6 separate regions of the Homo sapiens genome follow, and regions 1, 2, 3, 4 and 5 are each reported to be linked to region 6. Evidence: microRNA targets listed by miRTarBase, many of them from high-throughput screens and not tested one by one. Region 6 holds a microRNA gene; each other region holds the end of a gene's coding sequence.

What was found. The annotated mature microRNA hsa-miR-3678-3p reads CUGCAGAGUUUGUACGGACCGG and lies in region 6 at 2,215-2,236, shown strand. An mRNA with a match to its seed (bases 2 to 7 or 8) in the 3' UTR can be bound and repressed. Matches are read on the target gene's strand: a 7mer-m8 pairs with bases 2 to 8, a 7mer-A1 pairs with bases 2 to 7 and ends in A, and an 8mer does both.
Region 1: miRTarBase lists DSTYK as a target of hsa-miR-3678-3p. Seed matches in the 3' UTR shown: 7mer-m8 at 1,206-1,212 and 7mer-m8 at 1,116-1,122.
Region 2: the mRNA of SPSB1 is a reported target of hsa-miR-3678-3p. Seed matches in the 3' UTR shown: 7mer-m8 at 2,011-2,017.
Region 3: the mRNA of C5orf15 is a reported target of hsa-miR-3678-3p. Seed matches in the 3' UTR shown: 7mer-m8 at 2,881-2,887.
Region 4: the mRNA of ARK2C is a reported target of hsa-miR-3678-3p. Seed matches in the 3' UTR shown: 7mer-A1 at 34-40.
Region 5: the mRNA of IPO5 is a reported target of hsa-miR-3678-3p. Seed matches in the 3' UTR shown: 7mer-m8 at 974-980 and 7mer-A1 at 2,187-2,193.

The regions. Positions count from the first base shown.
Region 1 is chr1:205,144,043-205,148,147 of GRCh38, forward strand. DSTYK (dual serine/threonine and tyrosine protein kinase) reads right to left here. Exons shown (of 13, transcript NM_015375.3): 13 at 1-3,703. The coding sequence ends at 3,516. Among named protein-coding and RNA genes, the nearest start is that of RBBP5, 24 kb to the left of the region's middle.
Region 2 is chr1:9,367,359-9,371,446 of GRCh38, forward strand. It overlaps SPSB1 (splA/ryanodine receptor domain and SOCS box containing 1), which reads left to right. Exons shown (of 3, transcript NM_025106.4): 3 at 90-2,174. The coding sequence ends at 217. Among named protein-coding and RNA genes, the nearest start is that of LINC02606, 60 kb to the right of the region's middle. RefSeq lists an enhancer at 3,710-4,088.
Region 3 is chr5:133,953,381-133,957,485 of GRCh38, forward strand. It overlaps C5orf15 (chromosome 5 open reading frame 15), which reads right to left. Exons shown (of 3, transcript NM_020199.3): 3 at 2,130-3,610. The coding sequence ends at 3,479. LOC105379182 (a long non-coding RNA gene) reads right to left here and starts at 232. Exons shown (of 5, transcript XR_948797.3): 1 at 1-232. RefSeq lists an enhancer at 4,081-4,105.
Region 4 is chr18:46,456,067-46,460,150 of GRCh38, reverse strand. ARK2C (arkadia (RNF111) C-terminal like ring finger ubiquitin ligase 2C) reads right to left here. Exons shown (of 8, transcript NM_152470.3): 7 at 4,071-4,084; 8 at 1-3,632. The coding sequence ends at 3,515. Among named protein-coding and RNA genes, the nearest start is that of ARK2C, 120 kb to the right of the region's middle. RefSeq lists an enhancer at 1,228-2,017.
Region 5 is chr13:98,021,224-98,025,328 of GRCh38, forward strand. IPO5 (importin 5) reads left to right here. Exons shown (of 29, transcript NM_002271.6): 29 at 513-3,073. The coding sequence ends at 599. Among named protein-coding and RNA genes, the nearest start is that of IPO5, 70 kb to the left of the region's middle.
Region 6 is chr17:75,403,923-75,407,922 of GRCh38, forward strand. It overlaps MIR3678 (microRNA 3678), which reads left to right and starts at 2,147; the gene lies at 2,147-2,240. GRB2 (growth factor receptor bound protein 2) reads right to left here and starts at 1,756. Exons shown (of 6, transcript NM_002086.5): 1 at 1,567-1,756. RefSeq lists a silencer at 1,814-1,993.

The DNA.
Region 1 (4,105 bases), not on the chromosome of region 6:
CTGGGGAAACCCCACCCAAATGAGCCATGCCAGACAGCCCTTGCCATCAGCTCTCTAGGCACAGGGTCAGCCATTCCAGGGCCCCAGGCTCCACCATTTCTCCTGACTGCTCTGCAGGAAGGCCTCTCACTCATTTCTGAAACAAAATGAGAGACCAGACTTCAAGCTCTGGCCATTAAAAATGGCCAGGTCATCATTTTCATGTTGGGGTAAGCTGCCCTAATTATGTTGATTAGAAGGACAGACCACAATAAGGGTCATTCTTTCATGCCATCCTTTTTCTTCCTCCAGCCACAATCTCACCTCACCACTTGGGAACACATACAACCAAAGCTGGGAGGTAAAATCTTTAGGACTTTGGTCATGCTGAGCCCTCTATAACCCAAGTGCTGCCAGACTTCTTTGAAAACCTAGTGTCCTCCCAAGTAATATACAATACAGTACATTTCATGGCATTCCATCACTTATAATAAGAATGGATGCCAAAGAACAAAGCCAAAATTAGCTGACAATGTTATAAAACAAAAGCAAAGTATACACACTCTATACACACGTATACCTGCACTCAGCCTGCTGAGTATTTAAATAACATCCCCAAATATCCATATGTGGACTTTGGCTGGCCTAGAGACTTTCAAGAATATTTTGCACCTTTTCTCAAAATACTTTTTTTTAAAGAAAATGAACTGTAACACAACTACTCATCTCCTTACTTATATCAGTCCCTCCCTTCCACCCTCCCCACTGGGGAAAAAACTGTTGGGGAATCTGCTAGAGAACTGGTATCTGACAGCAAACTAAGCCGTGGGGTAAACTAAAAAGGGACTCTGGGTAGAGGAAAAAAATCTAACCTCCCATATGTGAATGAGAGTATGAGCTAATACTTCCCAAGAATGCTAGGAATGTGACCTTCATAATGGAAGCACAGACTTATGATTATAGTTAGAGTCAAAAGAAAACAGTCTGGAAAGGGAACTATATAAGACTTTTCCTAAAATTTCATACACAACAGACTTACAATGATTTTCCAGCAAGTAGAGAGTACTTACCCCTCCTTTCTTGACACCTGACTCCCTTGAAGCCCCATCATAGTTCCCAGAAGGACAGTAAGTTAGTGCAGAGAATAGAGTACTTGAAGTATAGCTAAATAGGTGGTAAAAATTCTGAGAATATACTGAACATCCTACCAAAACAAGGCTAAAGCCTGCAGAGCCCAAAGACACTGAGTCAGTTACTTTATCATTTGCAAGTAAAAAGGTTATTAGCACTACATGGAATTTCTGAAAGGCTCCAAGAGTTTAGGGAGCTACTATGCTCAAACATATCATGATCAGAGCCCAGGATAGCCAAAGAGTTAAAAGTTATATGAAAGACCCATTATAGACTCCATTTATACTCCATTAATATTTAAAAGATGGTCATTCTGTCATAGACAACCCTAGAAAATCCCAGCAGCAGATGTGCGACTCATCTTTGTTTTTTGTTTTTTTTTTTGTTTTTTTTTGAGATAGAGTCTCGCTCTGTTGCCCAGGCTGGAGTGCAGTGGCGTGATCTCGGCTCACCATGACCTCTGCCTCCCGGGTTCAAGTGATTCTCCTGCCTCAGCCTCCCAAGTAGCTGGGATTACTGGTGCGTGCCAGCATGCCCGGCTAATTTGCAACTCATCTTATACACCTACCTGGGGACCTGTTTTACAAACTCTCGGGCTGAACACAGGGGCCAGACCACAGTTATTGGGGATTAGGCAGATGGAGGGAGACTACTCACTTCCACTGTCTACTTCCTCGTCTACCTGTTTTTCGGAATCTAATGGACCAGTTTGGTTGAGGAAGGCTTGAAGTCAAGTGCATCTGAGATGCACCAATATTTAAATTGTTCCCCTTCCTCTGCCTAGAATCAGAATTTCTTTCCTCAAGCACACTTCATGAGGAACCCTCCAAAAGACCACCCACCCGCCTCCCACCTTTCAGGGAAACTTCCCAGACACTAGCACACAGGGGTGAGGGGCACACACAGAACTACCAGAGGAGGGTTTTTCTCTTTCGTCTGCTGCTTTTTTTCTTCTAACAGATTTTTAAAAAGGTAAAAAGAAGGAACAAATTGCGGGAGAAATCGTGGTTAAAAGCTCATTGATCAAGTTTTCCAAACGTCAGTGTGTTAGATTCAAACACAAAAAGAAAAATTTCTGATTGTGTTAAGTTTTAAAAACAAGCTGGTTTTCTTCCAGTATGTTTGTACATAGGCCATGGCCTCCAATCATCTCCCACCTCTCAGTTCTCACCCAAATACTTCGCATTGGGTTGGTTTTGCTTAGACACTCACTCCTAAGTACCATGTTATCTGGAGCTTTCCCACTTTGAGATGAAAAGAGGTAAACAAAAGAAAAGACTCAAAGGTAAAAGAACAGATTCTGTTCTGGGGTTAGCAGTAACTCTAAATCCAATAACTCCTGTGTGTATGTCTATATAGATAGAGATATAGACACACACACATATATACATATACACACAAATATATGCATACACATTCTATTTTTTTTTTTTTTTTGAGACAGAGTCTCACTCTGTCGCCCAGGCTGGAGTGCAATGGCATGATCTCGGCTCACTGCAACCTCCGCCTCCCAGGTTCAAGCGATTCTCCTGCCTCAGCCTCCTGAGTATCTTGGATTACAGGCATGCACCACCACGCCCGGCTAATTTTTTGTATCTTTAGTAGAGACGGGGTTTCACCATGTTGGCCAGGCTGCTCTTGAACTCTGGACCTTGTGATCCGCCCGCCTCAGCCTCCCAAAGTGCTGAGATTACAGGCGTGAGCCACCATGCCTGGCCTCTTTTTTTTTTTTTTTCCTCTTTTCAGGGCCTCTTGGTGATGTAACAGTGAAACCCTCCCCCAGAAACCAGGGATATGTGGTCCTATAAATGTAAACACACTGGCACTATGAGGAACAGATAGCTCTGTTTCTAGCTCCCTCACTGGGACTTCTGACCATTGCAACCTGAGATACCTGGCTGCAGACAGCAGGAACCAGACATCCACAAGTTATTGTTTTTGTCCCCATGTTTTCATAATCCCAGAACTAAGCTCAAATTTTCTGAGTCCTGACTAAACTATTCCTAGCTAGAGCCAAAAATCATGAGAATGAGATTTTTTAACACTATTGCCACTGCAGTGTCCCGCTTGCTGTCTTAGAAGTATATACAGTGAAAAGACAATGGTAACATCTGCCTCCTTTTCATTTGTGAAGCCAGAACACCACATTCCTCAGCTTTTACACATCTGAGACACTTTTTTGCTAAAGGGATAGCTTGGCGCTTCAGTGAGCTGCTGAATATGCTCAGTCATTCAACTCTTCACTGTCCAGGAGTCATCCCTGCCTGGGAAGGTTCCAAGTTTCCCAGCAAGCACCAGTTCCCTTGGGAGTGTGTCCTATAGTGAATAAATGTCAAATTCTCCCCATGGCCAAAAGGTGAGGGGGAAGGAAATAACTAGAGAGTGAAAGAGAAAGGTCTTTGCTTTCAAGTAGAATCATCTAGTCCTCTGTTTGGCTGCTCAGAATTGGACTTGCAGAGCCGATTCATGATGCCCTGGAGCATGGGCTGGACAATGCCCAAGAGAGGCCTCTTCAAGGGGTCGCCATCCCAACAGGCTTCCATCAACTGCCAGCACTCCTCATCAAACACAGGAAGACGTTCTGGGCGAGCCCCTAGAGAAAGGAGCATGGAAACAAGATCACAGTGAGAGGGACCCAGCACAACAAAGAGGCATGACCAGCTCAAAGGCTGACTTCCCAGTGGGGCTCAGAATACTAAGAATGCAAGGAGTTTTGACTTCGATTGCAAACATCTAGGTTAGAACCTAACAGTAAGAGCAATTAAAAAAAAAAAGAAAGAAAGAAAAAGAAAAGAAAAACTGGAACACATTAGCATATGAAGTTGAAGAATCGGACATTTTTTAAAAAAGACTTTTCGAGATAGTTCAATAGAGAGTTGACTTGAAGCAAAGGTTGACTTAAATATCTTTTCTGGATTCATGACAGTTTAAACGTATCTACGGCCCTGCTATGGAGTGGCCAGATGGGATGACAGGAGACCCGGTGACATTGCCT
Region 2 (4,088 bases), not on the chromosome of region 6:
AATCAGTGATAATATTGCTGCTGTGGTTAGCGCTGTTTGCTGAACACCCACCCAAGCTGCGCTGACCTGCAGTTTCTCTGTCTCCCCAGCCGAGCCGCTGCCGCTCATGGATTTGTGCCGTCGCTCGGTGCGCCTGGCCCTGGGGAGGGAGCGCCTGGGGGAGATCCACACGCTGCCGCTGCCGGCTTCCCTCAAGGCCTACCTCCTCTACCAGTGACGTTCGCCATCATACCGCCAGCGCGACAGCCACCTGGTGCCAACTCACTGAGCCGCCTGCCGCTGGGGCCGCCGCACCCTGCACCTTGGACCGGCATCCGTAGCCATGGACAGAGGTCCCTGGTCTTCCCTCATCCTCCGTGGCTGCCTCCATGGGACAAGGACCGATTCCAACACAGGCTCCTCTTTCCCCCTTCCCGACATCAGCAGAAGGCAGCATCCCTGCATGCCGTCCGTATACAACCCCTCTTTGAAAAAAGACACAGAGAATAAACTCCTACGAAAGCCCTACATTGAGCTCCAATCTGCTCGGGGTGGGACGGGTGCTTCCCACACCTCTGGGAGAAGGCTGCAGCCACCTGGGGGTCCCAGGGTGGTGGGGGTGGCAGGTGGTACCACAGCTCTGAGAGCAGATACCAGGGGTACTAAGAGGTGCTTAGACAAGGGCTGGTGCCCGGCCCAGGGTGCCCAGCGGGGCCATGCCATGGCAGATAAAGCTCAGGACGTCAAAAACTCACCATGGACCCCAAGGCAGAAACCAAGAACTGTCTGCAGGCAAATAAGCACCCAGCACCCATCCTGGCTGCCGGTGCCCCGTACCCTGTATTTATTCTTTTAACAATAACAAAAGCCATTTATTTATTCCATCTAGAAAGGAAACCCTGTTTCAGTCCCCTCTCTCTGGCTGTTCTGTTACTTTCCTTCCACCTGTGCCCTCCCTGGGATATGTATGCCTCGCCCGCCCTCCCTGGGCACATGTGCACACGTGCCCAGGCACAAGTATGTCTCTGGGTCCCTTGCCCTGCAGTTTCCAGGGGGCTCTGCTCCAAGTTCCCTAGCGGGCCCCTCAGGGAGAAATAGCCTCACGTGCAATCTGGGTGTCTTCGGGGGCCCGTCTGGAAGGGCTGCAGCAATTCCCCTGTGTCTCCAGGTAACCAGCTAACTCTTGGGCTCAGGCACCCTTGCACAGGGTTGCATTTCTTTAGTCTTCTGTGGGTCTTTTGATGTGGGTTTGATTTTGCTTTTGCTTTTCTAGCTGAGATTTCCCAAGTGCATCCTCAGAAGCTCTGGGTGTGCCAGAGGACCCCCAGAACTAAGAAGGGAGGGCGAGTGGGTCTCCATTCCCCGAGAAGCCGGGGGCAGGGTGGGATGGGGAAGACCAGGAGCAGAGTCGAGCCTCACAGAAGCCAGCGCGGGTCTCTGCTCAGCACCCCAGCCGGGGCTCTGGACCCAGGGTAACAGCCCCAGTTCATCCCAACCCCTCTCAGAGCCTCAAGAGGGGTAGCTCGGCTGCCGGAAGAGAGGGGTGCCCTATCCCTGGCAACCCCTCCACGTAGCGTACCCCAGCACCTGCCACCGCCTTTGCCATTTCTTTGAGCTTGAAGTTAACTCTCTTAGAGTCTAACTTTGGTTCATTTCTGCACAGGTACAATAGATGACTTTATTTGTTTAAAATGTTTAATATATATACATACATATATATATATTTGTCTGTAAGAATTATGTTTTAAACAGCTGCTGTAGAGTACCTTTTTTTAAGTAAATCTTACAGTGGAGTATATTTTTTAAAGCACAAAATTGGTGCCAAGACTGGGTGAGAAATGTACATTACCCCCTTATTATTTTGACGGTTTTTTTTTTCGGGGCAGGGGACCTTACCTGTAAGACTTTTAAAGATTTTCCTCCCTCCTGTTTCAGGTGGGTCACATTCTGATGAATGTTTCCCTTGTACAGATCCCAGCTTATGGCCTTGACCCAGCCGTCCTCACAGATGCCGGGTGACCCTCTAGCTCTCTCTGCATCTCCCACCCCCCGACACCCTGGGACCCTCGACCCCACCCTTCTTTCCTACCAGCCCAGAGCCTTGTGGCTTGTACAGTTTTGAAACTCCCGTTCTATTTTATGATGGTTGATAATAGTCAGTAACCTAATAAAGGAACGTTTGTTAAAATATCAAACCATTTTTGAATTCCTCGTTTGTGCCTCGGGGGAGGGGAAAGAGACATAGCTGACCCCTCCTGGGTCCAGCCAGCTCCACGGCCCACAGTTTTCAGCAGATGATGGGCTGACTCCCTACCACCCCTTGGCAGAGGGTGGGATGCCAGGCAAAGCCCCAGACAGAGAAGGAGAAGGAGAGTCCTGGAGGGAGGACCCCAGAACAGCCTCATCCCCATTTCAGAAGTTCCTCAGCCTGGCAGCCCAAGCTGCAGAAACTTGCCAAGTCTAACAGACAGTGATTCTGTGCCTTCGTGAGCGCATCAGGTTGGTTTGTGGGGTTGTAGAACTTGAGTTGACCGTGGGCTTTTTAGGAGCAGAGTGTGAGCCATTGTGGGCGTCCTCAGAGTCCAGGCTCTAGGGGAAGGAGCAGGTCCTTCATTCGTCTTTGTGTCCCCTGGGGCTGAGTGCACGGTGATGTTTGCTGAACTGTTGCAGAGTGAACTTGTTCTGCTAGCCATGTGGGCAGAGCCCCCGACAGAAAGGACAGGAAACTCTGGCTTATTTAGGGGATCAATGGGTGATAAAATGACAGTCAAGAAATTTACTAAGATGTGATCACGTGTCACGGCTAGTTTCCAAAGAATTAGCAAGAGCACATTAAGCTTGCGGTGGGGACGCTTCATTCTGAAGGCGTGTTGGGACCTGATAGTGCCGTGAAAAGTGCCTGGCCTGAGGGCCCAAGATCCCTGGGCCCAAAGACCCATGTTCCTTTCTCTAAGAGCCTCCTGACCAGCTATCCTCAGACCACACACATCAGCAGCATCTGGGAGGGGGGTTGTGAAAATGCAGATTCCAGGGCCCCACCTGAGATGTACCAAGTCAACACTTCTAGGGCCAGGCCCAGGAATATGCATTTCCTCAACTCCCTAGGTGACCTTGCCTAAGAGAGTTTGCACACCACTATTTGTGACAGTGTCAGCTGTTTTGCAAAGTTGCTGGGTAGAGGGAAATTATTCCATGGTGTCGGTGGGTTGGCCCAATGAGGAGCGCATGCGCTCCTGAGTCAGACCTGGATTCAAATACTGGCTTTGTGGCCTTGGACGAGCCTCCGGAAAACAGCAGTCACTGTAGTGTAGTACCTATCTCACAGGAGGATAGCAAGGGTAAGATGAGGCTTTCCGAACAGGACCTGGAGTCTTAGCGAGTGTGCAAACAAATGCTTTAAAAGCTCCTGCATTTCTGGAAAATGGCAGTTTCTGGGTTGCGACTTTGTCTCTAAGAATGGACCAGATGCTCGGGCGCGGTGGCTCACGCCTGTAATCCCAGCACTTTGGGAGGCCGAGGCGGGCGGATCACAAGGTCAAGAGATCGAGACCATCCTGGCCAACATGGTGAAACCCCATCTCTACTAAAAATACAAAAATTAGCTGGGCATGGTGGTGCGTGCCTGTAGTCCCAGCTGCTCAGGAGGCTAAGGCAGGAGAATGGCATGAACCTGAGAGGCGGAGGCTGCAGTGAGCCGAGATCGCACCACTGCACTCCAGCCTGGGCTACAGAGCGAGACTCTGTCCCCTCCAAAAAAAGAATGGACCAGACATTCCTAAACCAACTTCCTGATAATGATCTTCCTTCCCAGGTAAAGTCTCCAAAGGTCAAGGTGGGTATTGGGAAGAGGGTCCCCTAGATGCCTTTCCCAGATGCGGTTGGATGAAAGGGGTGGTGTAAAATGATTTTCAGGTTGGAGTTCATGTCTGGGTTGCAGTTGGAACTCCGCTTCCTTTGAAGGGGGCAGCAGGGGAGGAGTGGGGTTGGGGTCAGGCGCTGGGGGCGGGGGGAGGCACAGGGAAAAATCAGGGCCCTTGTGCTGCCAGGAGACTTCTCGGGGAGTAGGGTTTTGTGCCGAAGGGAGTGGGATTAATAAAACCATCTGTGCA
Region 3 (4,105 bases), not on the chromosome of region 6:
TTGAACTTCAGCTGGGAAGGATGAACTGCTTCACACTGAACCCAGAAGGGAGGCAAACTGCTGCACCAGCAAACCAGGCTGAAAGAAGGCCAAAGGGCAAAGCCAGCCCTGCTCACCCCACCCCACACACAGGATGGGGGAGAACTGGAACATCGGCAGCAGTGCCGGCAGTGATCTCCTTCACCTTCAACAGGCAGCACCTGCTCTGATGAGAACCTGGGATTTGGAGGAAGGGGTGATATCTCATACAACTATTGTGGGCTTTAGCTTCCCGTAGAATTGTGGATGTGCACATAAGGACTGACACGCTGTACTCGGCTCTGATCCCGCATTCATCTGTGTACCCAGGACGTTAGTAGTATTGGACTCTATGCAGACTATGTGATCTTGTGCAGAGCCTGAGTTGTCTTGGTTTTCTCCTCATCTAATTTCTCAAATACTTCATTGAATAACAATTTAAAGGGGCCTAGCAGGTGCCAGGTAATGAGCTTGGGGCTGGAGAGCAGTAAGAGCCAGTTCCTGTTCTCAAGCAACTCACTCGGTGGGGCAAACCACACATTCCGCAAGAGCTTGCACTCACGCTCAGGAGATCACATTTAAAATCAAGAAAGCCCAGTCAAGGTATGTGGTATGGTTTAGACCTGTGTCCTGCCCAAACTTCACGTCGAATTGAAGTCCCCAGTGTTGGAGGTGGGGCCTGGTGGGAGATGACTGGATCATGGGGGTGGTTTTCTCATGGTTTAACACCATCTCCCTTGGTGCTGTTCTCATGATAATGAGTTCTCATGAGATCTGGTGATTTAAAAGTGTATAGTAAGGCCAGGCACAGTGGCTCATGCCTGTAATCCCAACACTTTGGGAGGCCGAGGCGGGTGGATCATTTGAGGTCATGAGTTCAAGACCAGCCTGGCCAACATGGTAAAACCCCACCTCTACTAAAAAATAAAATAAAATACAAAATACAAAAATTAGCTGGGAGTGGTGGCAGGTGCCTGTAGTCCCAGCTACTCAGGAGGATGAGTCAGGAGAATCACTTGAACTCAGGAGGTGGAGGCTGCAATGAGCCAAGACTGCACCACTGCACTACAGCCTTGGTGAAAGAGCGAGACTGTCTCAAAAAAAAAAAAAAAAAAAAAAAAAAAAGAAACTGTGTAGTACATTCCCCCTTACTCTCTCTTGCTCCTGTTCCTGTCATGTGAGACAACTGCTCCCCTTTCGTCTTTCACAATGATGGTAAGCTTCCTGAAACCTCCCCAGAAGCTGAGCAGATGCCAGCATCATGCTCCCTCCACAGCCTGCAAAACAGTGAGCCAATTAAACTTCTTTTCTTTATAAATTATCCAGTCTCGGGTATTTCTATAGCAATGTGAGAACAGACTAATATAACATGCCTGCCTGACTGCCCAAATTCTAAATGTCTGTTTCTGTCTGCCCCACAAGTTCCAACACATTCCTTTTCAGCTAAGACACAGAAACGGGAGCTAAAAGGTAATCTATTATACCATTAGTACCAAAATCGGGTGCAGAGCTTCAGGTCTGACCAGAAAGTGAGTCTAGTCTAGGAGAAAGGAGCAGATAACACCACACAGGAGGAGGTGGCATGAGGTTGTGAGGCTCAACTGTGGCCCCTGCGTGCCTAGTCCCTAGCACTAGTTCCTAGTGCTCAAGTGCCTCTGTGAGACTCCAGGGGCATTTTTAATCAATGTATGATCTGATGCTCCAAAAGTCTGAGGCTACTTAATTGCAGCACTGTGACCTAGGTGGCTGGACCACCAGGAAGTACCCAAGAATCCCCCAATCCACTAAGGGGGATGAGCCTCCACACTCGGGGAGCCTTCCATCCCAGATAGTGACCCCAGGATGCTAGAAAGAGCACACTGATTTAGCCACTTTGCTTTTCTTTGCCATCCTACTTTGCTACAGTTTTCAATAAACTTCAGTACCTCGCAGTAAGTTGGACCTAAAGAAGAATTTAGCAATGTAAGTGGAATTCATAGAGGCAGAGTTGCACTGCTGAGAGGGACACCTGCAAGTGAATCAGGTTAGATTGCTCCCAGACATACACTACTCCCCGTCACCACCTAAATGTCATCACTGAAATGAAACACAGAAACACACTCGTGAAATCATAGATTTATATCTTTGCCATTTATTTTTTAAAATCTTATTCAAAATATTAAATAATAGTTTCAGATATGAAAAAAATTACTGCAATAAAACGGTTCAGGGGTATTTCCATTGTGCTTCCCTTCCCTATTAGGAAAGTACACTGTCCGCCCAAGAGACAGGATGGACGGCCTTCTTCCAGCTCTACATAAAGCGCAAGCCCACTGGCTCACCCGGGTCCTGCTTAACATATATTAGGGCTATGTTTTCTAAAAAGCTGTAGTGACACTTGTAAGTCAACCATGGTTCAAATCACATATTTACATATTGATCAATTCTTTATGATAGAAAGACAGACATAAATGAATCCCATAGTAAATACTTTCCAGTTGCCATAAAAAACAAAAACAAAGAAAACAAGTGTGGGGGAAAAAAGGTAATTGTACACAAATATCCTTTATGTATACAAACAACTTCATTCAGGTATAATTTTAATTTGAAAGACCTAGGTACAGTATTATTTAAGTGATAATGACCCCTAAGATTTATTCAAATTTACTGTAAAATAATAAACGAAGTAAACGAATCTGATATAATTTTAAACTCTGCCCATTGCTTGAAACCTTGGAGGAACCCATGCTACAATCAATTGCTAACTAAAAGCAATTGTACATGTATTTAACATTTTACCAGTTTCTGCTTCTAAATTTAATATAGTAATTCCAACCAAAAAAATAGTATCTCTGTAACATTTTATCTATGTCCACTGCAAGCTGCAGAGTCTCTGTTGCCAAGATTTCTTGACACATTTAATGTTTTACCTAAAATTGTGGTCAGATTGAGCAATATCATTATCCTAAATTATGTTTAAATTATCTAAAAATATCCAAAGCAGTTTTCTTGGAAGAAAAAAAAATATTACTCAAATCCAAAGCATTATCACACATATCCTTGTACATTACAGTTTGGGAACAAAAAAAAATGTGGATAAAAAATAGTATTTGAATGGCGGAGAATGAATGTGAGTCAGCAGTAACAGATATGTCAGAATTTAGTTACAAGTTTGGGATCTTTTAAAAGTAGCATCACTAATACTTCCAGAAGAAGCATAATAAATCTAAAACAATAAAAACTAACAGTGTAAATATAAGGTAATGTTTAACTCACATTTTGGACACCTGATTAAACTCAGCTCTAAAAGTACAGATAAAAAATTATATACTCGTTTGTGACATTTAATTTCCAAAGCACCAAGGCAAAAGAGAGACTCACCTCTCATTTAAGTACCAATTGCCTATGGCAAACATTTGCACAATATCATATAAAAAGTCAAGCAAATAAAATTACATAAGCAAATTCAAATCACAGTGCTTTAAAAAATATAATCATTGGTAATCTTCAAAGAAGGCATTGCCTCATTAACATTCTGATCTAGGCGATGGTATTCCACTGTTTTGGAACAAAGGCCATCACGCCATTTCCTGCTTTGAACCAGAAGAAAAATCTGGAAAACAGAAGTCATTAAATAGGCAAAAGAGAAAACAGAGAATATGGTAAACATTTTTATAACAAGTAAAATATCTCTCTTCTAGGTTTCTAAATATAAAACACAAAATATCAACAACAAAAAAGCTATTTTAGGCCGAGGCAGGCAGATCACTTGAGCCCAGGAGTCCGAGACCAGCCTAAGCAACATGGTGAAACACCATCTCTACAAAAAATACAAAATTAGCCAGGCATGGAGGCGCTTGCCTGTAGTCCCAGCTACTCAGGAGGCTAAGGTGGAGGATCACTCGAGCCCAGGAGGCAGAGATCACAGTAAGCCATGACAGCACCACAACACTTCAGCCTGGGTGACAAAGCAAGACCCTGTCTCAAAAAAAAAAAAAAACAAAAGCTATTTTGCTTTCCATCTTGTAAAGAAGGCTAAACAGTGCTTCTCAAATTTCAATATATATAGGAATGTTTGTTAAAGACTCAGATTCCTAGGCTCTATCTT
Region 4 (4,084 bases), not on the chromosome of region 6:
AGTTAAGAATACTTGCACGGAGGCTGGGAACATTTGCAGAAGAGGAGCTTGAGTCCTGCCACAGGTGGTGGCCAAGGGCAACTGGGTGCCGAAGGGGGTCCTGGCCAGGTGGAGGGGCAGCCCCTGCTCACCCTCTGCTTGCACCCAACCAAGCTTGTGGTGTTGGGTTGATTGATTGGCGTCCTCGGTGGACCCGCGGCGGCACAGCTGCTGCAGCTGCTAGGACGCCCAACTTAAACCCTGGGGCTGCTCTCACCCCAGAAGGCACTCATGCGTCTCAGTCAAGAAAGGGTCTGAGTCCCTTGAGTTGAGCAGGAGGAGGACTTACCAGTGGTCTCCCCTCCTGGAGGTGGTGGATGTGAGATGCTGAGGCCTGACCCTGCCTCTTCTCCACTCTTCCCAGACTCCCTGACCAGTGCCGGGAGCAGAAGCACAGACCCTGGCCCTCTCTTGTCCCCCAAACAGCTGCCCGGCTAAAGAAGTGGGAGCTGCAGGGTTCTGAGCACCCCATCACCTCCTGTCCCCATCTGTGGGGGAAGGAGGAGGGGCTTCAGGGTCTACCCCCAAAGTAAGCAGCTTCCCTCTCCCCTCTGGTGGTCCCCTCCCCAGTCCCTAATATTAGCCTGGGGCAGAGAATTGGGAGGGGGGAGGGGACGAGGGCCCACTGTCTCACCCAGCACGTGTGCCCCCAGCCCAGTCTGAAACAGAGTGTGTGCCCACAGAAAGTCCTTTTCAATAGCTGGGTGGGCGCACAGCTCTGCCGCCTTGAAGATGTGTTGATGTTAGGGAGTGTGAGTGTCAGAAGGAAATTAGCAAGCATCCAATCCAACCTCCTTAGGTTGTAACTGAGGAAACTAAGGCCCAGAGAGACAAAGGGAAGTTTCTAGTGTTGCCCACTTTGTCAGTGAAGAGCCCAGACTGGAACCTGGGACACCAGCTCTAGTTCTATCCTGGCCTCCCCACTGACTCCCTCCCACTTGCCAGCCTTTCAGGCCAGTCTCAGCAGAAAGAATGAAAGACTGAGACTAAGAGAGGAGTGAGCTTCCTAGACCACCCTAGCTACCTCCAGGCCAAAGCCATCTTCCGATGAATTCTTGGTTTTCACCCAGCCATTGGAGAGAATGGGGCAGAAGTCTCAACTTCCTGTGGCTATCAGTAACTAGCTTTCCCCCAAAATCCTGACTCAGATGTACTTTCCCCACTGGTGAGATCTCCAGCCTTTAGCCCTGGAGACATTTTCATACACTGGAGCTACTGAGTTGGACGCTGTGATACTCATTGCTGCTAACCCTGAATCAGGTTATTCACCATTTTTGCAGCATTGGATGTGTCTTGTCTCCTCAGCTAGATTGTGAGCTCCTCAAAGCTATTGTCTCTCCCAGCGCCTGCACCGGTAGGCACTCAATAAAGATTTTATAGAACACCAGGATATTAGTGCTGGGAGAAATCTCCTGCCAGGAGCCACTTCCCCCACTTTCTGCCTGCAGGTGGCCAGAGCAGCTATTCCCGCATGAACCAGTCGTGCTAGAAGCTCTTCCTCAAGCCAAAATCTGCCCGCCTGTTACTTTTACCCATTGGTCCTGGTTTTACCCTTGTAGCAGCAATACAGACTCAAATTTCCTTCACTGTATGGAATTTCTTCAAATATGTGACAAGTATCCTGTCCCCCTTACCCCGGTCTTATTGATACGAGGGCATTGAGACTGGGTTATGAATGGAGGTGAGGGGGAGGCTTACAGAGCAGTGCAAATGAGGGAACAGTGGGGGGTGGGGCACAAAGGAAGGTGGCAGAATTCCAGCTAATCTGGTGTCTTCCACATAGGGAGAAAGAAAGTTGGGTTTGGGTTGGAATTTGGTGGATTTTCCCATCTCCATTCTTCTGTCCTCTTATCTCTCTGCTCCCTTTGGGGTTCAGGAAAATTGTGAGGTGGTGCAGAAAGACATACTGTATCAGGTCTGTGTCTCCCAGCACCCCCATCCCGACACCCCACAAGGTTCTCAGAAGAGAGCATAGAACACGCTGGACAGAGAATATGAATCCTCACAACATCTAGGTGAGGTAGCAGGACCGGAAATGGGGCTGCACTGTTCTCTCTCCCCCCTCAAAGGAGAAGGAAACTGAGGCACAGAGAAAGAAAGGGACTTGCCCAAGGTTATCAAAGAGTCAGAGAAGCAGCCAGAGACCAGGAACACGGGCACTCCCAAACCAAGCTGAGGGGCCTCCCAAACCTAGCTGATGTGACCTCAGAGCCAGGGCCATCTCTGAGGGACTGTGTCAGGACTGGAGACATCCCGGGGGATGCTCAGCTTCCTCCCCAAGGTCTGCGGTATTGACCTCAGCCCTTAGTGCTGGCTGAGAGCACTGTGGCCAAGACCAAGCAGCCATCACCTATGCTGTCTTATCTGCATCATCTGGTTAATTTTTTGCATAGGGAGGCAGTGGCTACGTTGCCTCTTTGTGACAGGCAAGAGCACAGCCTAAAGGAAGGAGTTGGAGTGACCATGGGTCTCTCGGCTCCCAGGAACACATTGGGTACCAGTAGCTGAGGGCCGAGCCCTCCCTGGTTTAGTGTGGAACTGGGGGGATATAGCTGGGGCCATGAAGTTGAGCCCTGGGCCTGGGGAGCCCCGCCTAGATGAACTCTCCCTTCACCTGCTGGAGCTCTGCTGCCTTCCTCACCTCCGCTGAACCCTCAGAGGCCAGGATAAGACCCCATCAGCTCCTTTTCCAGCTCTCCCTCTCCTAGACCCCCTTCCACACTCCGTGCACTGTAAACATGAGAAAAACAAAAGCCAAGGTAAAAACAAAAACAAAAATAAAACGAGAACCCCCCCCTCCCGCCTCCCAAATTGGGTGAAAAACAAAATCCTTTTTCACCGTAAACAGAATTTGGCTTTTTTTTTCTTCCACCTTTGATTCCTTTTTCCTTTTCTCTCATAAAGACGGGAAGATTGGGGCTGTCGTTGGTTCGGTCAGGCACCAAAACAAGAAACTCAATGAGAAATATTTGGTGCGAATTCGGTAATAGCGACATGTCCACCACAAGATGACTAGAGCACCACACACAACATTTTTCTTAAGCTAACATGCTCCGGCTGCCATCCACAGAAATAGCTAGAGACCCCTACATGGTTCCTACGTGGTCGAGAGGTATATATACAATCCTTCAGAGGACAGGATTGAGGGGCCCGTCTGTCAGCTAGTGCCTTCAGGATCCCACCTGGGTTCTCCGCAGCCTGGGCCCCTCCTTCCCGCCCTTGCGCTGGGCACCGCCAGCTCCCTCTCTCCTGCTCAGCCAGGCGGATGGGGACAGTCGCCATTCTGGAGAGGTGGGTCCTCCCCAACCCCCTCCTCTCCCTCGACACCGATACCACCAACTCCTCTTTCCACAAAATGTGCTTGCAGGCTTTTCCTCTACGTCAAATGGCTCAGAAGGCAAAGTTTGGCTGCAAGGGCTATGGCCGTGGGGGGACCTGGTGAAGGAAATGGGGTGTCCACTGGCTAATTCCTCCCTCAGCTGTCGGCTCCCAGTTGTGTCTCAATGTCCACTCGGCAGATGGGGCATTTCTTGCTCATGGCGAGCCACTGGTCCACGCACAGTTGGTGAAAGAGATGCATACAGGGTAGGCGTCTGGAAGAGAGGAGGGAGAGTCAGAGGCCCGGCAAGAGCTGAGGGACACTGAGCGGAGCAGGGACACACACCTAGGACTCCTGGGGAACTGCCCGGCTATGGAGGGAGGCTGTGGCTGAGATGGGAAACCATGAAGCCTCCGCCAGGAAGCGCTTTCAGATCAGCCTGAAACAAAGCCACAACTTTGTCTTAGACGCATTCAGACCGAACACCACACTGTTCTCCTACACTTTTCATCCTCGCGTCCGTACCCGGGCATCACACATCTAGAACATTTCATACCCCACCTTCCCAGGGCAACCATGAAGCACATTATAGCACACTTGGCACATACGTGCACAAGCAAACAAGCACCCCAACTCCCAGACACACGGTGCAGTGATTGGTCACCAATACCTATAAGAGAGGGGAGAGGGAATCAAAATGGCGGTCTCCTACCTCACATCTTCTCC
Region 5 (4,105 bases), not on the chromosome of region 6:
TAAGGAATTTTATTTTTATATTTTCATAGTCTCTTGTCTCCAAGCCTCAAATGGATTATACTTAATGTAATCCATCCGTATGTACTTATTATTTATTAGAATTAAAACCTTCATCTTAGGACATTTTGAGCTTACCAGTTGGTGCTTAACACAAGCTTATGTGTAGTTTTTCTGCCTATCTTAAGAAAAAAAAACAAGATTTAATAATAACTTGTCATCTGCCAAAAAACTTTATATGATTTTTACTTCCTATATTCATGTGGTATATGGGTTACTTTAAGATGTTACCTGCTTAGTGTAGCTTTTTCAGTGCAAAAATGAAGAAAACTTACTGGAAATGAAATGAACTTTAAAAAAATGAACAGATTTCTTGCTTTTACAATGATACTCATCAAAATAATGTACCTAGGGAGAAGGTATTTTGCCATGATTACAGTTTACCTATGATGATGATTAAAATCCTTCCAAATGAGCATTTCGTCCTAAGTCTGTGAAAATGTTTCTTTCCCTAGACTTCTGGAGGACTGTGGACTGAGTGCATAGCACAGCTCAGTCCTGAGCAGCAGGCCGCCATTCAGGAGCTCCTGAACTCTGCGTGAAGGGCCTTAATGTCACCCACCAGAAAACTAACTCCAAATAAACGCTTACCCTTTCCTTTAGGTTTCTTTGTTTTGTTTTTGAGCAAAAGAGATCGGTAGTGTTGTGTGTAGGCCATTCTTCTGGAGAGCCACAAGCAGGAAGAGCAGCGCTGTGTTGCAGAATGGAGTTTCCATGGATTTCTACCAGACCACTGAAGGAGTTCCTGGAAGCCCTGCGGTAGCTAGCACTGAAGACTATTTTTCTATTGGTATAACCCGCCCACCTGAAGGGGAAAGGGAAATCAAATTAATTTTTCTCGTTAGACATAAGGAAATTTAAGGAAAAACAGCTTTAAGAACAGTTACTCAGCGTAGATGTGTGTTCACACAAATTGCTCTGCATTCAGTGTTCATTGTGAATTGGGAGTGTGAGTCTTTCTGTAGGGTAGAAAGAAGCCTCCTACCCAGCAAACCAGTAGACCCAAAAGTTGAAAAAAACTGATGACAGACAACAAGCATGAAGATGGCATATTTGATGTCACTTTGGTTCTTTTTCCCAGAAGGCTTATACAGTGACTCAGTCGGGAAGCTTTCCAGCTTCCAGCCCTTGAATGTGAAGTGTCATTGGCATGTCTGGCAGTAGTCTCTCATTCACTCCTCAATAAACAACATTGAATACAAAAGAGGCTTGTGTAAAAACTCAGTACTGTCTGGCTTGGATTCATTTCATGTTTTTAATATAAGAATGATCTAATATTTTTTTAAAGTAATAGCTATCAGTAATAGCTGAGTGTTTTTTCCCCTAATATTTTCCTTGTGCAATTCAGACTTAAGCATCGAGTTTTTACCATCTTCCACTTTAAGCTAAGTTATGATACCTATTCCATTCACAATTGGTGTTCTTTTTAAGGTTTGCAAATTTCAGCCAATTTTGTAGCTAAGATTGTTCTGATCAGCTCAAAAAGATTTGGCTTAGTGTTTTCATTGCAAATTATAATTGCTGTAGAGCCACACACAACTTTTGAACTTTTAATTATAAGTGTTATGGCTAAAGTTATTTACTGAAAATTTCAGTAAAATGTGTGAATGTTTCTTTATGTATTAACCTCATAGCAGTAAATGACTTGCTGTTGTTTAATTTTTCTAAGGCATCTTAATAGACTTCTGTTGAAAACTTCAGTGTTAACATTTTTATAGTTTGTACTAAATTTAACCGTGATATAAAAATGAATTTTATGCATAGATCAGAATTTTAAATTAAAGGTTTTTTCTTTAAATGATTTGTATTACTTTATTAAAACTAAATCTGAAATGGAATAGAAAATAGAATGGATTACATACAGATGGTTTCCTTGTTAGCAGATGCCCTTCAAATATATTTTACGTTTGCAGCACAACACCATTGCCCGGAGGCTTCCGAATCTAGCAAAGCAGCATATTAAATGACTCCACCTGCGCAGTCCTTGTGTTCAGTGGATGAATACCTGTGGGCTCTTGTAATGTGTGGTAATATTTGGAGCTTTATAGCCTGTATTCCTTGGGAGAAAAAAATGGGAATTGGAGTAAAAAGTGTGTCAAGACAACCCCTTTCTGCTTTCTTATGTAGCATCTGCAAAGCCGATTCATGTACTGATGCCAATCAGCTAGAGCAATGTAGGCTTTTTTTAATTTAAATTATTACTACACTTTATTACTACACTTGCAGAAAAGAAACATGTTAAAATCATGGCACACCTGCAGAATTTCAGATGACAGTGTGGTCAGAAGATGTTTTTTGGGAGAACCTAGTGTTTGCTGGGCACTATGCTAAGCACTTTGGGAGCAAGAACCTCCTACCTTCCAGTTTAAACACTAGTGGTATTGTCAGATGCCGTTAGTATCTGAGATGTACTTACAGCAGGGTTCTAAGAGCTCTGAAAGAAGCGCTCTGTTAGATGCAGACTGGCAGCATCCTCCTTGATAAAAGCAGAAAAGCAAAGAGGTAATTGGAGTTGAATCAAGTTAATAGGGAAGGTTGGTAGTAAATGCTGTTAGTGTGACATGATTCTGAAACCCAGAGCTCAGAACTAACTGTGAGATGTACCATGAACTAACAATTCTTTGAAAGGACCTGCAGAAGCATTTTTAATACCTCATTCTGTCTATGCAAGATGAAAATCCATGGAGTTTTTTCTTGGCTTTTGTACCAAATTTAGGGGTCTTGCATGTCAGCAAGTGATATATATTGTTTATAAATGCAAGCTATTTCTGGAGGGGAAAAATGTGTGTGGCTCTTACGTTTTCTGGGAATTTTGTAACAAGTTACACGCACAAGTGTTAGAAACTTTGGCATAACTCAATTTGGAGTATTTTTTAAATGCTGTATCTTTAAAGAAAAGTAAAATTGTCTTAAATCTAATTGACACTTCTGTAATGAGAGGCAACCTTATAACTCTGGAGTTGTAGTTTGACAGAACCATCAGTAAAGACATAAGCAAATAAATGGTCTTGGTGCACCTGGTCTGATAATAAATAAGGGGGGTGCTTACTTACAGTCTTGCAAGCATTATATTTTTATGATCTAATCTTTTGAGTGAGTGCCTGTTTAAGCAACGTGAAAGGCTAAGGAGCTAGCTAAATGTTTTAATAACTGCTTCATTCTGCCTAGGAGGATTGTTGGGTCAGTTTTCTCTGCTGCACAGAAATCACTTTGCAGGTCGGGCGCGGTGGCTCACGCCTGTAATCCCAGCACTTTGGGAGGCCAAGGCAGGCGGATCACCTGAGGTCAGGAGTTGGAGACCAGCCTGGCCAACATGGTGAAACCACATCTCTACTAAAAATACAAAAAGTAGCCAGGTGTGGTGGCAGGCACCTGTAATCATAGCTACTCCAGAGGCCGAGGCAGGAGAATCACTTGAACCTGGGAGGCAGAGGTTGCAGTGAGCCGAGATTGTGCCATTGCACTCCAGCCTGGGCAACTGGGTGAGACTCCATCTCAAATAAAAATAAAAAAAAAAAAACGAAATCACTTTGCTTCTCTTAACCTTCTTTGCCACAAAAGATTAACAGCCAAAACCTGCCATGTTTGCTATTCCTAAGCAGATTTTCTTTCTCGGCCCTAAAAGTATGAGTACCACTATTAGAAGAAGAAAGTGAATGATCCACAATGTATGCACATCACACTTGGGAGGAAGCATGAATATTTATTTCCAGCACTTGGAACTTCTGAATGGTGGTGCTGAGGAGCAGGGGTTAATTCTAACAACATCCTGCCCTAGACTTAAACCCTTTTTTCCCCACACAGCTGTAACCCTTACAGTGTATGCCAGACAACATTTGGGCTGATTATTTCTATGTATTTATTATATTTGGATGAATACAAACATTTTAAAGATAAATTATAGCTATATTATTCACTTCTCAATGAATCCAAAAGTGGTACAATATAATTTTTTGTAAAACATTACAAAAAATTTTTTCTAAATTCCACTAAGGCAGCAGAGTATAATTATGAAATCTGTTCTTTCATGATTCAGGAGCTTTCATTG
Region 6 (4,000 bases):
GGGCAACACAGTGAAACCCCATCTCTACTAAAAATACAAAATTCGCTGGACATGGTGGTGGGCGCCTGTGATCCCAGCTACTCGGGAGGCTGAGGCAGGAGAATCGCTTGAACCCAGGAGGCAGAGTTGCAGTGAGCCCATATAGCACCATTGCACTCCAGCCTGGGCAAAAAGAGCAAAACTCTGCCTAAAAAAAAAAAGTCACTGAGCTGACCCAATCTTCCTATTATAAAGACATACTAGAAGAAAACATAAGCAGGCACAGAAGCATAATCTTAAAAGAAAAAGAGTAAAAGACAAAAATAATACAAGCAAACCACACTTGCGACCTAGTGGCAGGACTGATTTCTTAGGGATGAATTCAATCTTTTGAGCCTCCCCGTTCTCAGAGAGGGGACTTCAGCCTCCCACGGCTCTCTAGCAACCCTTCTGGCTGACTGCAGGGAACGCAGGGGACGCGCAAAAGTAAAGGAACGAAAGCAAGGAAAGAGAGTCTCTTCCCGAGGAAAAAGACGGAATCTTGAAATGAGAGAAAACGAACAGCACGAAAGGGAAGAAACCTCGAAAAATTACGCCAGAGTGGGGACTACAAGGAGGAAGGGGAAGTACATTAGAAAAAAAGGGGGGGGTGGGGGGAGGAAGGGGCAAATGACTTGCATTACACAAGCATTTCGTGTCCCTAGTGGAAAGGACAGAAGCAGATAGAGAAGGAAGGAAATAACTGGAGAAAGAGGAGTAAGAAAGCCAAAATAGACTAATGCTAATTTCTCTCATGTGTCTGACATTTCGGAAAGTCAACAGCATCAAAAAGAGACAGACCTCAAGTGCACTTCAGTCCCCTGCAAACTGCACTTTCACAGCGTTTGAAGCCAGCCTTGAAAAACTTTCTAAACAAGCCATAACTCATGTGTGGCTTACAATCATAGAGAGGGCGCGCTGCAAATGAAAATTACCAGCGCCCGCTCTCGCCGCAATCCTTCCTCGGTGCAGTCCAACCTGCTACTGCTGAATTTTTCTTGACAAATATTTTTCAAATAGTTTTTTTTTTTAAGTGTCAGAATAAAGGTATCTCCCCCGGCTCCAGCAGCAAACGTTCCACCCCAAAGTGGATTCCCGCACAAAATTAAGCCCAAAGACGCCAGGAGATGGTGACGTGGTTGCCGTGCAGGTCGAAGGCACATCAATCACCACAGCTGCAGCCCACACCAGTCCCCCGCCGCCAGGCTCGGGTAGACTGACTCGGTCGGCGTTCGGCCCGCCTGGGCTTCCCGGGCCCCTTCCGTGCAAACCCTCCCGATGAAGGCAGGGGACCTCGCCAGAGAACCCCGACCTCTTCCCCCGGACTGCCCAGAGCCAAGAGCCGGAGGAGGACGGTCCCCAGGAAGGAAGCGCCCCAAAAGGGGAAACGTAGAGTCCGGAGCCCCGGGGATTGCGCTCCACGTCCCAAGCCTCGCCGCCCCGACGCGAACCCCGGGGCCGGTCCCGGTTCCCCCGGGGCCCACTCCCGCTGTAGAGCCAAGAGGAAAAGGCACGAGAGAGGCGCCGAGCGCAGCCTCCCGTACTCACCGTGGCGCAGCTGCTCCGCTCAGCGTCCGGCCCGCCCCTCCACAACGCTGCGAGCGGCCGGCGACCCCAAGGCTGCTCTGCGAGGGCAGCGCTTGCTCCCGCCGCCGTCACCGCCACAGGCACAGACTCTGCCACAGCCGCCGCCGCCGCTGCCGCCGCCCGGTCGCCGAAGCAGCAATACCTCCTGGCTTCCGCTCCCCGTCGGTGTCCCGCGAGAACTTCTCCACGAGGCCCCGCCCCGCCCCCGCGAGACTTCCCCCGGCGGAAAAGGCCCAGAGCGCAAGCGCTCCTCCTCAGCCGGGCCCCTGCGGGTAGGGAACCAGCTAGGTGTCAGGGCGCATGCGCCAGACCTCCCCGCAGCAGGTGGCCTCCGCACGGCTCCGCCCCCGGGTCGCCGTAACCCTCTCGGTGCCAGAGCGGGTAAATGACAGCTTAGCCCTGAAGGACTCTTCCCCCGTCTAATCACTTTATTTTCCTCTTCTACCAAACCTAGGCAGTTGGATGGGTAGGGGCTTGGGGGAGGAAGAGATCTTCCAGAATGAAGCACTCCAAATAGAGGACCAGGTCTTAAAATATTTGAGAATCCGGTCCGTACAAACTCTGCTGTGTTGAATGATTGGTGAGTTTGTTTGCTCATTGATTGAATCACTGCAGAGTTTGTACGGACCGGATTCTCCAATATAGGCCGAACACTGTGCTGGGGATAGAACAGAAATCTTGGCCCTTAAGGAATTCACGGTCTAGGAAGTAGAAGAAAAATAAACAAATAATGCCATAAGTACTGTTATAATTATTTGGAGTTTGCTGAGGAAGCTAAAAAAATGGAGGGGGTACTGCTACACTGCCCATTGCAGAAGAGCCTTCACAGATGTGATGCGGCGATGTCTGATCTGAGTCTTGGAGGATGAGTAGGAATTTGCCAGGCAGAGAAGCCAGAGTAAGGGCATTTCAGGGAAAGGGAATGGCACGTAAGTACAGAGGCTAAGTACAGAGGAACGGAGGCGTGAGAGAGAAAGTCGTGTTCTGTGCAGTGCTAAGTAGTTCAATTCCTGTATGAGGCCGGTGAGTACGGGGGAGTGGCAGAAGATGAGGCTTGGAGAAATAATTCTTATTTTTCAGTTCCCAAAGCTCTTCCAATTAAAGGATAGAACACAACACACCTAGCGTTACTGTGCCTTCTGGAAGCCAACAAAATAGCGCTGAGGTGAGAATAACCAAGCATCTGATTCTATAGAGAAAAGAAGCCCATTGAAACACAGAAAATGAATTGTGCTTTCACCAAGTATTTATTGAGCATCACCTGTGTGCAAGGGGCTCTGCAGGGTCAAAGACCAACCAGATGAAGCCCCTGCTTTCAGTGCTTTGTAATCTAGAGTTGCCTAATCTGTAAGACAAGCAGTTGGCCCCAAGTGCCACTGAACTACACATAGGGATGGCTGAGGAGGGAGCCAGTACTTGGTGCTGAGCTAATCAAGAAGGATTTGGTTTGAACGGCAAAGTGAAAGCAGGGAGGAAAGAGGAAAGAGTAATGGAATCAGCCTTTTGTTTTTTTTTTTTTTTTTTTTTTTTGAGACGGAGTTTTGCTCTTGTTGCCCAGGCTGGAGTGCAATGGTGCGCGATCTTGGCTCACCGCAAGCTCCGCCTCCCGGGTTCAAGGGATTCTCCTGCCTCAGCCTCCCGAGTAGCTGGGATTACAGGCATGTGCCACCACACCCAGCTAATTTTGTATTTCTAGTAGAGATGGGGTTTCTCCATGTTGGTCAGGCTGGTCTCAAACTCCTGACCTCAGGTGATCCGCCCACCTTGGCCTCCCAAAGTGCTGGGATTACAGGCGTGAGCCACCATGCCTGTTTTTTTGGTTTTTTTTTTTTTTTTGAGACTTGCACTGTTGCCCAGGCTGGAGTGGAGTGCAGTGGCATGATTTTGGCTCACTGCAACTTCCGCCTCCTGGGTTCAAGCATTCTCTCACCTCAGCCTCTCAAGTAGCTGAGATTACAGCAGCCTGCCACCACACCCAGCTAATTTTTGTATTTTTAATAGAGACAGGGTTTCGCCATGTTGGCCAGGCTGGTCTCGAACTCCTGACCTCAGGTGATCCACCTGCCTCAGCCTCTCAAAGTGCTGGGATTACAGATGTGAGCCAACACTCCTGGCCATCAACCAATGTTTTTGATTAGTCCAAGCCCCAGTAATTGGGGGGAAGAGTGATGAGAGAGAGGGGCCAAAATGCAAAATGCATGGCTTAGGTGTCATAGTCAAGTGATGGGCAACCTCTGAAGGTTTCTGAGCAGGAGGTGTCTGATATGAGGTGAAAATAAGAAAAGGACCCTCTATTTACCACTTGATGCATACTTAAGTCATAGCGCCTCCACAGGGTGGGTAATATCCCCATTTTACAGACTTGGAAACTAAGCCTTAGAGAGGTTAGTAATTT